Homo sapiens: one gene and its partner. The protein of the gene in region 1 interacts with the protein of each later gene in a pairwise test. Each region holds a gene or a part of one and is shown on either strand. Other genes may lie near its edges. The genes, in order: ZMYND11 and ZHX1.

Region 1 (7,858 bases):
AAATAAACATATGTCATTCATTGAAACATGCATGACATCCATTCAAAACGCCAACAGGGCCGGGTGCGGTGGCTCACATCTGTAATCTCAGCACTTTGGGAGGCCAAGGCAGGTGGATCATTTGAGGCCAGGAGTCTGAGACCTGGCCAACATGGCAAACCACCCCCACCCCGGCCCCCTACTAAAAATACAAAAAATTATCCAGGTGTGGTGGCACATGCCTGTAGTACGAGCTACCCGGGAGGCTGAGGCATGAGAATCGCTTAAGCCTGGGAGGCAGGGGTTGCAGTAAGCCGAGATCACACCACTGCACTCCAGCCTGAGCGACAGAGCAAGACTCCATCTCAAAAAAAAAAAAAAAAACGCCAACAGAATGGTATTCAGTATGAATGAAAGAACTAAATTTTAACATTTTAATTGATTTCTTTTTGTGAAGCTGGAAGCTCGTACATGTACATTTATTTAAACACCTCACAAATGGTAATTGCAAAAATAAATTGTCCAATTTAGAGACTGTAAAAGGAAGAGTTGGTTTTCATATGAGCAATCTCTATGGGGGAAAAGCACCATGTGAAATACAGAAATCCTTTAAGTAACAGAGTCAAGCAAGACAAATATTTTGATTCTGTCATAATCACATCCCATATCCTCTGATCTCTGATTCTCTAGCCTGGTCATCTTATAAAGATGAGTCAACCAAAAATAACAACTATAATGTAACCTGTGCCAGTTAGTCAAAGACAAGGCAAATTAAATGCCTCTACAGACATTCATATTTTTTCTCCTGCTTGTAAAAAGACATTCAGAAAAACTACAAAGATGACCCTGCCTACCAGAAAGCACTCTAACTTTTCAACTTTCAAAGTACAACCAACACTATCTCCCTGATAACATCCAACCATTAATTAAAATCAACCTCAAAAATCTGAAAACGTTGTGCACACCATAATTACTAAGCTAAAATTACTATATTTCTCAGTTTACAGGAAAACAAGTAAACATTTACTTTCTGCTTTTGGACAAACAGATTAAATTATTTTTAAGAATGTTCTTGCCTCCATATGACTCAGCTTACTGTGGGATGCAGAACACCTAAGTGAGGAGGACCAAGGGCTCTAGACCTCCCTAAAAACCCAACCTGCACCACTCCCTCCTACCAGCAGGGTCCTGAATGGGCCACCTGGGTATCTCCTCCAGGCTCACATTCTTGACACCAGATACCATGTACACACTGTATATGACCCAGGGTACTAGATACCCTGAATATGACAGTGGGTACTGTGTACACAGTACATATGACACTCGGTACTAGGTACACACTGCATCTGACACTGAGTACAGCTTATGTGACAAGGATAGTGCATGCATGGTGCATATGACATTGGGTACCATATATGCATGGCATATGACATTGGGTACTACCTACACACCATATATAACACTATGTAATGTATACATACTGTACATGCCACCAGATATATATACAAAACATAGATAACACCAGGTAGTGTATATACACTGTATATGACACCAGATACTATATACCTAACGTATATGACATTGAATACTGCATACACACCGCATATGGCAGCACGGTACCGTGCACATACTGCACAAAATACCGGGAACCGCGTAAGGGCTGTATATGACACTGGGTGCTGCATACACAGTGTGAAAGGATACTATGTACACACCATATATGACCCCAAGTACTGTGTGCACACAGTATATGACACCTGGTACTATACACACCGCATATATGACACCAGGTACTACATACACACTGTATGTGACAACAGGTAAGGTAAATATATTCAATACTATCCAGATACTACATACACTCGTATATAACATGGAGTACCACACGCACAGCTCATATGGCAGCAGGGTACCAGGCACCTACTGCACACAATACCGGGGGCTGAGTGCACAGCCTAAGCGAGGAAGATACATGTACACACCGTGTATGATAGCCGGTACGACACCGGGTACTTCGAGCACACTGCATATGACACAGAGTACACACCATATATAATCCCCGGTACTGCGTACCCACCGCATAGGACACCGCACTGCACAACGAGCACTGGTACACACGAATAAAACAGGTACGGCGGTCACTCTGCAAAAGACACCGGGCACGGCGCACACATCGCCAGCTCCTCCTCCTCCCGGCTCGGGAGAAAAGCGCGAGGAGAGACTGCAAGTGAAAGTCCGGGTCCCGGCGCCCCCCCTCGTCCCAGCCGCGTCCTCAGCAGCTTCTCCCCGGAGCTCTGGGTGGGAGGAGGGCGGCGGACCCCACAGGACTGTCCCGGAGGTCCGCGAGGACCTGTTGAGGCGGCGGCCTCGCTGCCGGGGTCGCTCACAGCCCCGGGGGACCGACGAATCTCCGCCCCGGGCCTCGGGGCCAGCCCTGCCCGCCGCTCCCGGGCTAGCACACGACGTGCCGCGCCGACAAACGCTTCCTCTCCGCCCGCCACACGCCCGGAGCCGCGTTCCCCGCCGGCCCGGACTGCGCACGGGCCCAGGAGGCCTGACCGAAAGCGGGGCACAGGGCCCGGCGGGCGGTGCTCACGCGACTCCGCGGCTTCCCGGCCCGAGCAGGCCCCGCGCGGTCCTCCGGGGCCTCATCCCGGGGCCTCTTCCGCGGCCGCCCAAGGCGAGTGGGCGCGGGCCGGCAGCCTCCGCAGGCCCCGCCGCCGCCCTCGCAGGCCCCGCCGGCCCGGCCCGCCCCGCCATCCACAAAGCTCCCCGGCAGCTCGGAGCTCTTCGCGAGCGGGCGAGCGACCGTCAGCACCCACTGGTGCCGCCGCCGCCCCAGAGGCCGCGGCCAGGCAGGCTCCACCGCGCGGGCCGCGCCATCTCCACGGACGCCCCCGCCCGCCCCGCCGCCCCGCCGCCGAGCTTTCCCCACCATTATGCTCCGGCTCCTCCACCGCCGCCGCCGCCGCGCCCGGCCCTCCCCTCCGGTGCCGCCTCCTTCCCGCCGCCCGGCGCCTCTCGGGCCTGAGCCGGCGACGGGCGCGGGGGGCGGGGGGGACGCTCAGGCCGCCTCCTCCTCCTCCCTGCCGGCCTCCTCCCTCCTCCCCGGCTCCCCCCCGCCCGGACCCCGCCGCCGGCTCCGCGCGAAGGGCTCCGGGCTCGAGGGGCGCCATGTTTGTAATACTCCACCTCAGAGAACGCCGCGGTCGCGCCTGAGCGAGGGAGGCTAGGCGGCCGGGTCGCCGCGTGCGGGGTGAGGGCCGGGAGGGCACCGCCGCCCGCACTTACTCGCGTCTTCCCCTGGCGCCGCGGGCCTGCGGGGCCGGAGCGGGCGGCGGGAAGTTGGGCGCCGCCGCCCGGGAAAGTTGGGTCCCCGCGAAGCCGCGGCAGCCGCTCACATGGCGATGCGCGCGGGGCGGCCGCTCGGCCCCACCGGCCCCTCGGCCCGCCCGCCCTCGGAGTTTATTGTGTCGGGTCGAGGCGCCCCGCGGCCGGGCCGCGCACTGGGGGCTCTAGCGGCTGGCGCCGGACTTGCGCGCGGCCGGCCCGGCTCGCGGCCGCCTCCCGCCCGGGGCCGGAGCCGTGCACGCGGCTCCTACCTTCCCCACGTCCTGTCTTCGGCGCCTCTATCCGAAATTTGTTGGAGCATATTCCTCTGTCTCCACACATGCACTCCGTATCCACACACACGTGAAGGCTACGTACGTGCAGGCGCGCTGGAGCCGGGAGCGGGCGCCGAGGCCGGGGCGCGAGGGGGCATTGTCAGGCGCCGCCGCAGCTCAGCCCCGGGTGGACCCGGTGCCTGCCCCTGGCTCGCGGGGTCCGGAACAGCGAAGTCTGAGAAGTACGAGTGCTTCTCTTAACAACATTGTTTAGGTAGTCTGAACAGCCCTTTACTCCTGTCATCAAAAAGAGCGGTAGGGATACGCTAAGTTCCCCGTTTCATCTCTGCGCAAACAGGACCGCGAAAAGAACAGGACCACCCATCAGCAGCCCTGCAAGAACACTGCAGATTTGCGCGAGAAGTAGGTTATCTTCTATGGAGAGGAATTCTAGACCTAATCAGAGACGATCCCTTAAGACTCTGGTTTAAGAAAGGTTCGGAGATAAGCATACTTTGATAGCGTTCACCTGTTTTCCCTGAGGACCTTTCGCCACTGGGAGTCGGGGAACACCTGTCAGTCAGAGTCCTCTGCTCTGAAATTCGGTGAGTACAGGACAGCAAGGTGTTTTCAGGGAGACCGCATTCTCATAACTTTTACTACAGTATAGTGTTATAATTGTTCTGGTTTATTATTAGTGTTGTTAATCTCTCATTGTGCCTGACTTCTAAATTAAACTTTATTATAGGCAGGTGTGTATAGGAGAAAACGTAGTGTAAGTAAGGTTCAGCACTACCCCGGGTTTCAGGTATCTATTGGCCGTCTTGGCACGTGTCCCCACCTGAAAAGTCATTAGGAAGAGACGGTTGTAGGAATTTGGGGATTCTGATAAAATATATCAATCTGCTTCTACAGCTGGTTTCTAAGACTGTTAGAATTTAGAAATGGGTGGTACTTGAATAGGTCTGTGATATACACTAGTCAAATAAACACAATCTTTCATGCTATTCACAGCCCTCAATCTGATACATCCCAGAGAGTTTTTGATTATCTCAAAGAACATCACAGAATAATTGTAATTCATTTTAAGAGTAAATATATATCGCTAAAAATTTAGTAGAGGGGTTAAAACGTGTCAGAAGAAAAGCAAGCCATGCCTGGTTTGAATGTTGGGCCAGGAATTCCAACAATGAAGAGCTTTCAGTGAGTCACCTTTTTAAACAGTCTGTTACTTCATCTGTAAAATAGAGGACTGCATGGTTCTGTGTATTTTAGAGAAGGCACTCGAGTAAGACAACATCGTATCAATAAAAGGAAGCTTACCTTTTAGGAAAGAAGTGGCAGCATAACTCCACATTTTTTTCCCAGTTATACTTTGTAGGGATCATTTAAAATTTTATACGCAGATACCATCTCTCATTCAACCTAATGTAAGTTAGATAACTTACCCTGATTTTCCTGTTGGTTTTGCCTAGAATTTAACCCTTGGCTCTATTTTCCAAGTAAGGTGGTATTTATCCACTAAGATGAATACGAATATCCCTCCCCACATAAAACGCAAAAGCCATGGATAATGTACAATAGAAGAAATAAAACTATTAATAAATACTGACAGCTATTCTAATTCACTAGTAATGACACATTCAAACAACGTAACATTGCTTTTCTTCAAAGGACAGAATTCTTTTCCAGTGATAATGCTACTGATGGTTAGCGAAATGAACGCTTATATACACTGCTGGCAGAAAATTGGGTTGATGTCAACTCTCTTGAAATGCATACCAAGAGGCCATTAAAACAGTTTGATTTATCTCATTTGCCCCTCAGCTGAATGAATGTGTGTGTGTGGGTCTGGGGACCAAAGGTTTGAGGTTTGGAGGAAGCCCAGAAGACCAGTAACTAATTGCTGTGCTAGTATCTTACATGACAAAGCTATACTGTTTATACAATTGAATACAGACAGATTTTTACTTCTTGATTCTCCTTTTTGCATTGGTGAGTTTCAAAGCGGGTGCCACTGAGCCCTGGGGCTTCTCAGAGCTGTCGGGGAGCTGTCTCTGCAGGACCAAGACGTGGGAATACTCCTCCCGCCCCCAATCAGACAGCACTGCTCTATTTTCTAGAATGAGTGTCCAGATCAGATTTCATTACCTGGCTATTGGGACAGTATAGTGTGTGTAAGGTAATAATTGCTCAAACTCATTTGACATGAGTTAGGGTTTAGTCTCATTATTTATTTTGTTAAATATTATCAGGAAATACTGTGGAAGAAAATGTTAACTGTAACTGTAATAAAGTGTGGACTGCTGCAGATGGCTGTGAGTGTAAACGTCACAGCACCTTCATTGGCCCATGGCCTCCAGAGCCGCTTCCTGCTGCGGGGCAGCCCTCAAAAATGTGTGTCTAGTGAGTGTCATCTCTTACACATGCTACAGCCCCCCATCCTCAGACCCCCAAGAAAGCAAGAGGATAAGAAACATTCAGTAAGAGACAGATGCTGAAGTGAGCAGTCATGATCTAGCCACTCCACAAGGTTAGTTCGTACTGCAAAGGGAGACTTTCTCAGAGACCAATAAAATATATATATATAAAATATATATATTATATTACATATTTTTTTTGAGCAGCAGCAAGATTTATTGTGAAGAGCGAAAGAACAAAGCTTCCACAGCGTGGAAGGGGACCCGAACGGGTTGCCCCAATGAAATATTTTCTAAGACTATACAATGTTCTTTGATTTCATTCCATGCCTTTCTGACTTCTGATAACAGTTTTCCGTAGTCTTTAGTATTAGATATTGATGTTTTGAATATGGTTGTGGTTTCTCCTTATCTTCTCCTCTATTAGATTAACATTCTGGCATATAAGTTACTATATAACAAGTTTATTAATGTTGCTTAAGGATTTCCAGTCACCTGTGGATGCTTTTAAAAATCATGTTTTTGAAACTAGAAAGCTGTGGTCCGAACTCTGTAACAGCAGTTACCATTCATTGATGCTGCCACCCTCTGTGGCTCAGACTGAAACTGCTACTATCCATATTTTAATTTTAAAAAACTTTCAGCCAGGAATAGTGGCTCACATCTATAACCCCAACACTTTGGGAGGCCAAGGCGGGAGGTACACTTGGGGCCAGGAGTTCGAGAACAGCCTGGGCAACATAACGAGGACGCATCTCTACAAAATTAAAAAAAAAAAATAGCCAGATGTGGTGGCTCACTCCTGTAGTCGCAGCTACTCGAGAAGCTGAGGGAGGAGGATGGCTTGAGCACAAGAGGTCAGGGCTGCAGTGAGCTATGATTGCATCCCTGCACTCCAGCCTGGACAACAGAGCAAGACGTTCTCCAGGAGAAACTGTCAGTATAAGAAATCCATTTCCATTGAAAGCCATGATTCTTCCAATACTTAAGTGGCAGCTTTTTACTACACAGCAACCGAGGAGCTGAGCTGACAGTGCTTGCCAGGCCTAGTTCCAGTGCCTGTGGGCCTTGAAACCCAGGCTCCGGGCATCTCTTCAGGGCTCCATAGCTGTGGCTTCTGAAATTCAGTTCCCCACTTCTGTCCATGAATGTACAGTATTTGTTAGAAGTAGGTCCTCCCATACTCAGGTTAATATGCTTCAAAACATTTAAGGAAAAGTAGGATCCTGTCTTTTCAAGGGCAACTCATCACACAAGATGAAAAACAGATGTTTGTGTATGTGTGTGCCTTCTTTCCTTCAAAATTGTGATTCTAACCTTTTCCCTGTCTCCCTGGTCCCTGTTTTCCTTTTTTTGAGATAGGGCTCACTCTGTCACCCAGGCTGGAGTGCAGTGGCACCATCTTGGCTCACTGTAACATCCACTCCTGGGCTCAAGCGATCCTCCCACCTCAGCCTCCCGAGCAGCTGGGACCACAGGTGCATGCCACCGTGCCCAGCTAATTTTGTATTTTTGGTAGAGATGGGGTTTCGCCATGTTGCTTACGCTGGTCTCGAACTCCTGAGCTCAAGTGATCTGCCCATCTTGGCTTCCCCAGTGCTGGAATTACAGGCGCGAGCCACCGTGCCCGGCCCCGACTCTCTTCTATAGCATGATGTAGAAGAATATGCACTAGTGCACCTGAGTCCAAATTCCAACTCACTGTGAGACATTCAAGTGATTTCACCTTTTTGAACCTTGGTTTCCCTGTTTTTCAGGAGTATGATTTTCTAACATCAGATTGCTTGGATTAGAGTCCTAACTCCACCATTCTCTAGCTATTGACCTTGGACAAGTTATTTACCAATTTATGTC
Region 2 (7,277 bases), on another chromosome or scaffold:
ACACATCAAGTGTCCTAACCTAAGGAAGGGCCTGAGTAAGGGTCTGAAAGTGCATTGAATGTCTGTGGAATGGCAGCCATTTCTGGTATACCTAAAGCATAAGGAAACAGGAGGAAGGAAAGTGAGGTTAGACTAGGTTGTGAAAGGGATTATATGTCCCACAAGGAGTTTGAACTTTATTCCTTCAACATTAGGAACCTGTGTCAGGAGACTGATGTGATTAGATCTGCTTTATAACTTTTGGTAGCATTGTGGCAAGTGCTAAGAATAATGTTTCTGGTAGGCCAGGCACGGTGGCTCATGCCTGTAATCCCAGCACTTTTGGAGGCCAAAGCGGACAGATCACCTGAGGTCAGGAGTTCGAGTCCAGCCTGGCCAACGTGGTGAAACCCCATCTCTACTAAAACTACAAAAATTAGCCAGGCGTGGTGGCAAGCGCCTGTAATCCCAGCTACTCAGGAGGCTAAGGTAAGAGAATCATTTGAACCCAGGAGGTAGAGGTCACAGTGAGCCAAGATTGCGCCACTGCACTCCAGCCTGGGTGGCAGAGTGAGACTCTGTCTCAAAAAATAATAATAATAATAATAATGTTTCTGAAACTTTGATCATTCATCCTCCATCTTTGCTATTTTTGCCATACTTGAAGCATGCTTTTGGCTGATGAGATAGACCAGTAGGAAGAAGAGGACATAACTAATGAACTAATGGATTAAATTTCTTGTCTTTTTTTTTTTTTTGAGATGGAGTCTCACTCTGTTGCCCAGGTTGGAATGTAGTGGCATGATCTTGGCTTACAGCAATCTCTGCCTCCTGGGTTCAAGCGATTCTCCTACCTCAGCCTCTGGAGAAGCTGGGACTACAGGCACCTGCCACCACGCCTGGCTAATTTTTGTGTTTTTAGTAGAGACGGAGTTTCACCATGTTGGCCAGGCTGAATTTCTTACACACTTAATGGCCATAATATTTTAGTATCTGTGAATGCTTTTTATAGTGTTAAAGTTCCTCCTTGTTAACATTGCCATTTCACATTAATAATAGTGTGCTTGCCAAAGCAGGCCCTTTCCCCCTTGTCTTCTAATATATAGCTGGCTAAAAAATTTAAATGAATAAGCTTGTGTCTGACCCAAGGTAAAGTACTTAACATTCAATGAGTTGGCCTGGAGAGATTTATTTTGATCTTTAGAGGACATTTTTTTCTGATTCTTATCTTATTCTAGATCTTTGTAACTGAGCTATCCAGCCACTTCATATAAGTGAACTATAACTATAATTTGTTTAAAAGATCATAGTTACTCATTTTAAAACATTTTAAAATTTATTTTAATGTAGGTGATTGGAGTTGTGCTTCAAAAATTTCAGAAATTCAGCAGTATTTTATCTGCCAACAATAAGCTCTTTACTTGATTGCACCATGAGAAAGCTGCTAATGAGACTTGTTGAGCACAAAAATGGACTTGAAGAACCAAAAGCCATTGTTTTCAAATGAAGAACACTGAACAGTTTTAAGCCTCGATGCTTTTTAATCACCACTGAGCTTTTCCTCATAACATCAGAATGGCAAGCAGGCGAAAATCAACAACACCTTGCATGGTCCTTGCCAGTGAACAAGATCCAGACCTTGAGTTGATATCAGATTTGGATGAAGGTCCTCCTGTGCTTACACCTGTAGAAAACACCAGAGCAGAGAGTATCTCAAGTGATGAAGAGGTTCATGAATCTGTGGATTCAGACAATCAGCAAAATAAAAAAGTTGAAGGTGGATATGAATGTAAATATTGTACTTTTCAAACTCCAGATCTAAATATGTTTACTTTTCATGTGGATTCGGAACATCCCAATGTAGTGCTAAATTCATCCTATGTTTGTGTCGAATGCAATTTTCTTACCAAAAGGTATGATGCACTTTCTGAGCATAATCTGAAATATCACCCAGGAGAAGAGAATTTTAAGTTGACTATGGTGAAACGTAATAACCAGACAATCTTTGAACAAACAATAAATGATCTGACTTTTGATGGTAGTTTTGTTAAAGAGGAGAATGCAGAGCAAGCAGAATCTACAGAAGTTTCTTCTTCGGGAATATCTATCAGTAAAACTCCTATCATGAAAATGATGAAAAATAAAGTGGAAAATAAACGGATTGCAGTTCATCATAACTCAGTTGAGGACGTTCCTGAAGAGAAAGAGAATGAAATCAAACCAGACCGTGAAGAAATTGTAGAAAATCCAAGTTCTTCAGCTTCTGAATCTAATACAAGTACTTCCATTGTAAACAGAATACATCCAAGTACTGCCAGCACGGTAGTGACACCAGCAGCAGTTCTTCCTGGATTGGCACAGGTGATAACTGCTGTATCTGCTCAGCAGAATTCTAATTTGATTCCCAAAGTCTTAATCCCTGTTAATAGCATTCCCACCTACAATGCTGCATTGGATAACAATCCCCTTTTACTTAACACCTACAACAAGTTCCCTTACCCAACAATGTCAGAAATTACAGTTCTTTCTGCTCAAGCAAAATATACAGAGGAACAGATCAAGATATGGTTTTCAGCCCAACGTTTAAAACATGGTGTTAGTTGGACTCCCGAGGAAGTAGAGGAGGCAAGAAGGAAACAATTCAATGGAACAGTGCATACTGTACCTCAGACCATAACTGTTATTCCTACACACATTTCCACAGGGAGTAATGGTTTACCATCTATTTTACAGACATGCCAAATAGTTGGTCAGCCTGGTCTGGTCCTTACTCAAGTGGCTGGAACAAACACCTTGCCAGTTACAGCACCTATAGCCTTGACAGTGGCAGGCGTTCCAAGTCAAAATAATATACAGAAAAGTCAGGTACCTGCTGCTCAGCCTACTGCAGAAACAAAGCCAGCAACAGCAGCAGTTCCAACTTCTCAAAGTGTCAAACATGAAACTGCATTGGTAAACCCTGATTCATTTGGCATTCGGGCAAAAAAGACAAAAGAGCAACTGGCAGAATTAAAAGTTAGCTACCTTAAAAATCAGTTTCCCCATGATTCAGAAATTATCAGACTTATGAAAATAACAGGCCTGACGAAAGGAGAGATTAAAAAATGGTTTAGTGACACAAGGTACAACCAGAGAAATTCAAAGAGTAATCAGTGCTTACATCTCAACAATGATTCCTCTACCACCATTATTATAGACTCCAGTGATGAAACCACGGAATCCCCAACTGTTGGTACTGCACAGCCTAAGCAATCCTGGAATCCTTTTCCTGACTTTACTCCCCAAAAGTTTAAAGAGAAAACTGCAGAGCAGCTTCGTGTCCTTCAGGCAAGTTTTCTCAACAGCTCTGTACTTACAGATGAAGAATTAAATAGGTTAAGGGCACAAACCAAACTTACCAGAAGAGAAATCGATGCTTGGTTTACAGAGAAGAAGAAATCAAAAGCTTTAAAGGAAGAGAAAATGGAAATAGATGAAAGTAATGCAGGTAGTTCCAAAGAAGAAGCTGGAGAAACTTCTCCTGCAGATGAATCTGGTGCACCTAAGTCAGGGAGTACAGGCAAGATATGTAAAAAAACACCTGAGCAGCTGCACATGCTTAAGAGTGCATTTGTCCGGACACAGTGGCCATCACCAGAAGAGTATGACAAGTTGGCCAAAGAAAGCGGGCTTGCTAGAACAGACATAGTTAGTTGGTTTGGGGACACCCGTTATGCTTGGAAGAATGGAAACTTGAAATGGTACTACTACTATCAGAGCGCCAATTCAAGTAGTATGAATGGTCTGTCTTCCCTTAGGAAAAGAGGGAGAGGGAGACCCAAAGGACGGGGAAGAGGAAGACCGCGTGGGCGGCCTAGAGGAAGCAAAAGAATTAACAACTGGGACAGGGGACCATCACTCATAAAATTTAAAACTGGAACTGCAATACTTAAGGATTATTACCTGAAGCACAAGTTTCTTAATGAGCAAGACCTTGATGAACTTGTTAACAAATCACATATGGGCTATGAGCAGGTCAGAGAGTGGTTTGCAGAAAGACAGAGAAGATCAGAATTAGGTATAGAATTATTTGAGGAAAATGAGGAGGAAGATGAAGTTATTGATGACCAGGAAGAGGATGAAGAAGAAACAGATGATAGTGACACTTGGGAACCTCCACGACATGTGAAACGGAAGCTGTCTAAATCAGATGACTGAAATGTAAGTTAAGAAAATTTTTAATCTGCGTATATGTTCATCAACCACATACATTTTGAACAGTCACCTTGTTGTATCAGTCATCTTCATTTTTGATATTTTCTGAAGTAGTTTTTCTTTTCCCTAATAAGACTAGGTACCACTAGTATAGCTAAGAGATAAATGATTATCATGTGTAGTTTTATTATTATTATGTAGAGTTTAATGTCTTAATTATTATTTTTCATATGAATTGGGTTTTTTTTACTTTGTTTTGAAGGAAAGTTACCCAATCTCTATGAAGGGAGACTGGCAGGCAGGTTGAGGGGATTCACAAACAAATACTAAAGATAACTAAAATGTATTTTATTGCAATGCCCCCTTCACTAAAGCTTCATTTTTTGCCTATTTAAGGAAATAATTCAAAAATGAAAACTAAAAAGAAGGGGAAAAGTACACCAAAGGAAAGACTTACCACAGGGTTGAGGATTGTGCAGTTTTAGGAAACTAGGTGAAAATGGGTATCTTTTCATCTTCATTGCATTGCTCCCAAAACTTTACTAGACTTTTAACTAGAGTTTAAAATGCTTTATGTATTTATGAAATTACTCAGTATCTTTTTAGTAATTTATAAAATTACTCAATATCTTTTTCTGTTAAAAGTCAAAGGTCTGTTTTAGGCCATATATAAATTCATGTTTGCTTAGGCGGCATCTGTCTTTGAAAACTGTGATATAAATTATTTCTGTTTTAGAGATCAAAAGGCAAATAACAGATTTGATATAAACCCAATTGCTTAAAATATCTTTTCATTCTTTGGTATAAAACAAACCTGCTACCAGCACTAACATTGTATTTGATTTAAAGTATATCTCTGTAGTCTTAAAAATGCAAATAAATATGGCTTAAATTTGAAAGGTTTTGGCATGTTCCTTAAATCTTAGTTCTTTTATAAATTGGATTAATTAAAGTTGAACTGTAGTTGCAAATCAGATACCTGCTTTGGAGTTAGGAATTGAATTCTTAATACTTCTGGAATTTAATAACATAGTTTTATTCTTTGCTATTCTTTGTTTTGGAGTGTTCCGGGGTAAAAGTACACTGTTTTGAAAACAATGCAGTTGTCATGAAATGTTTGTGTATGTCTGTCAGTAGTCCAAATAGCATCTTGCTATCAGAAATGACTGCTGTGTTCAAACAGTAAGGAAGGAAATGAGACGTAGACCCTCATTATTATTTTATACGTGAGCATGCTTACTTATTTCCTTGGCTTTTTGCATGAGTATCCCATCCCCTACTTTTATGCTCTGTTATTCTGTGCAGTTTTTCCTTAATTCCCTTACATCTTCTCTCTGGTTTTATTTATTTTAACAATTATTTATAGAGAGCTTAATATGTACCAGGCACTATTCTTACTGCTTGGCAATCCTTTTTCAGGTTTTCTCCTTGTTAATATTTTTTAAGGGATAACAGATGAAACTAAAAATGTACCTGTTTTAATAAGCAGTATAAATATCATTCCAGGTTATAGGGTATAATGTAATCATTTTAGGTTATAAGAAGTTAAACAGTTTCATACAGCTTTATCCTGAAGTGCAGCCCTCCATTTCCTAATGTCAGAAATCTTCAGAGCAGGCTTTCTTCTGACCCAGATACATAAAATATTTTTAACAGGCATTTTTTTTATTGCTAAACACAAGAATGTGCACTCAGCCAAGATTAAATCAACAAATTTGTTGCTGCAGTGAATGTTGTTGTTGTAACCTCTGCAATGATTTTTTTGGGGAGTTGCAGTCTTCCAAAAATAATGTGAATTTTTCTGTACAGTTTAGTTTGACCTTTAATTTTGTATAGATAATTCTTATGTTATATATTAACACTGTAATGGATACTAATTCTGGTCAGAAAATTCATCCTAAAACTACAGTTTTCAAAAGACTGTATGATGTATGCTATACATGCACTGTATTAGTCCATTTTCACACTGCTATAAAGAACGACCTGAGACTGGGTAATTTATGAAGAAAAGAGGTTTAGTTGACTCACAGTTTTGCCGGCTTAACAAGAAGCATGACTGGGAGGCCCCAAGAAACTTACAGTCATGGCAGAAGGCGAAGGGGAAGAAGGGGAAGCAAGCACATCTCACCATGACCGAACAGGAGAGAGAGCGAAAGGGGATGTTCCACACAACTTTCAAACAACCAGATCTCCTGAGAACTCACTCACTATCATGAGAACAGCCAGAGGGGAAGTCCACCCCCATGATTCAGTCACCTCCCACCAGGCTCCCTCCCCCGACACTCCCTGATTAAAAGTTATGTATGGGCTTATACAATTTCAAATGTAAAAACAGCCTATTTACATATGTTGAAACAATAAGATTTTGTGGTATCACTGTCCCTTAATAATTACAATTCAAGGTAAGATTTGGATGGGGACACAGAGCCAAACCATATTATATACTTTTGTGATAGCATAGAAGCATGCCTTTTTAAATACACAAAAGTCTAAATTTCTGAAACATCAAGTTATCCTTGGCTGAGTAAAATAATTTTTCACTTATAAGAGGATTCACCATAGCCTTCTCTAAATAGTTATTTCTTCATTTAAATATTGTTCAATTTACCAAAAAAGTTACCAAAACCTTCCCAAAATAGTTATTACAGGAAGTGAGGTACATATATATCTTTTGCACCTTGTATAGAAATAGAAAAAAGTACAAGTCTTTAGATTTCATAGTCTGCTTATTACAGATACTGACAATGAAATATATACTCCCTGCTCATACAGTTTGAAATAAATTATTACATAAAGATGATAAATGTTTATAAGCAAATCTAGCATATGAAGAACATATACATAGATGAGTTGCACACAAAGCCTAGTGTATTATGGAAGACATATGTGGCAGGTAATCTCAAGAGAATACAAAAGATGTATTTTCACTTTTATTTCTAAAAGTAGTAAAAATTAAAATATGGTTTTCTTTAAATTTTCAGTTTTTTATGATGTTTTTCTTTTTTAGCTGCCTAAAACGTTGAAGGAGAATCAATTCTTCAACTCAAGATGTCTGATTTACTGTGAATTTGCCCAATCTTTGATGACATTGAAAACGTTTTGGG

The links.
Region 2: the proteins of ZMYND11 (region 1) and ZHX1 interact in a two-hybrid assay, tested with the Homo sapiens proteins (2 studies listed by BioGRID and IntAct).

What each region holds. Positions count from the first base shown.
Region 1 is NC_000010.11:130,616-138,473, reverse strand, and holds the start of ZMYND11 (zinc finger MYND domain-containing protein 11), read right to left. Parts: upstream 3,020-7,858; 5' UTR 2,915-3,019; intron 2,877-2,914; exon of another isoform or gene 2,802-2,876; intron 2,666-2,801; exon of another isoform or gene 2,057-2,665; intron 1-2,056. UniProt on the Homo sapiens protein: Chromatin reader that specifically recognizes and binds histone H3.3 trimethylated at 'Lys-36' (H3.3K36me3) and regulates RNA polymerase II elongation. Does not bind other histone H3 subtypes (H3.1 or H3.2).
Region 2 is NC_000008.11:123,250,224-123,257,500, reverse strand, and holds part of ZHX1 (zinc fingers and homeoboxes protein 1), read left to right. Parts: intron 1-1,329; 5' UTR 1,330-1,554; coding exon 1,555-4,176; 3' UTR 4,177-4,179; intron 4,180-7,180; 3' UTR 7,181-7,277. UniProt on the Homo sapiens protein: Acts as a transcriptional repressor. Increases DNMT3B-mediated repressive transcriptional activity when DNMT3B is tethered to DNA. May link molecule between DNMT3B and other co-repressor proteins.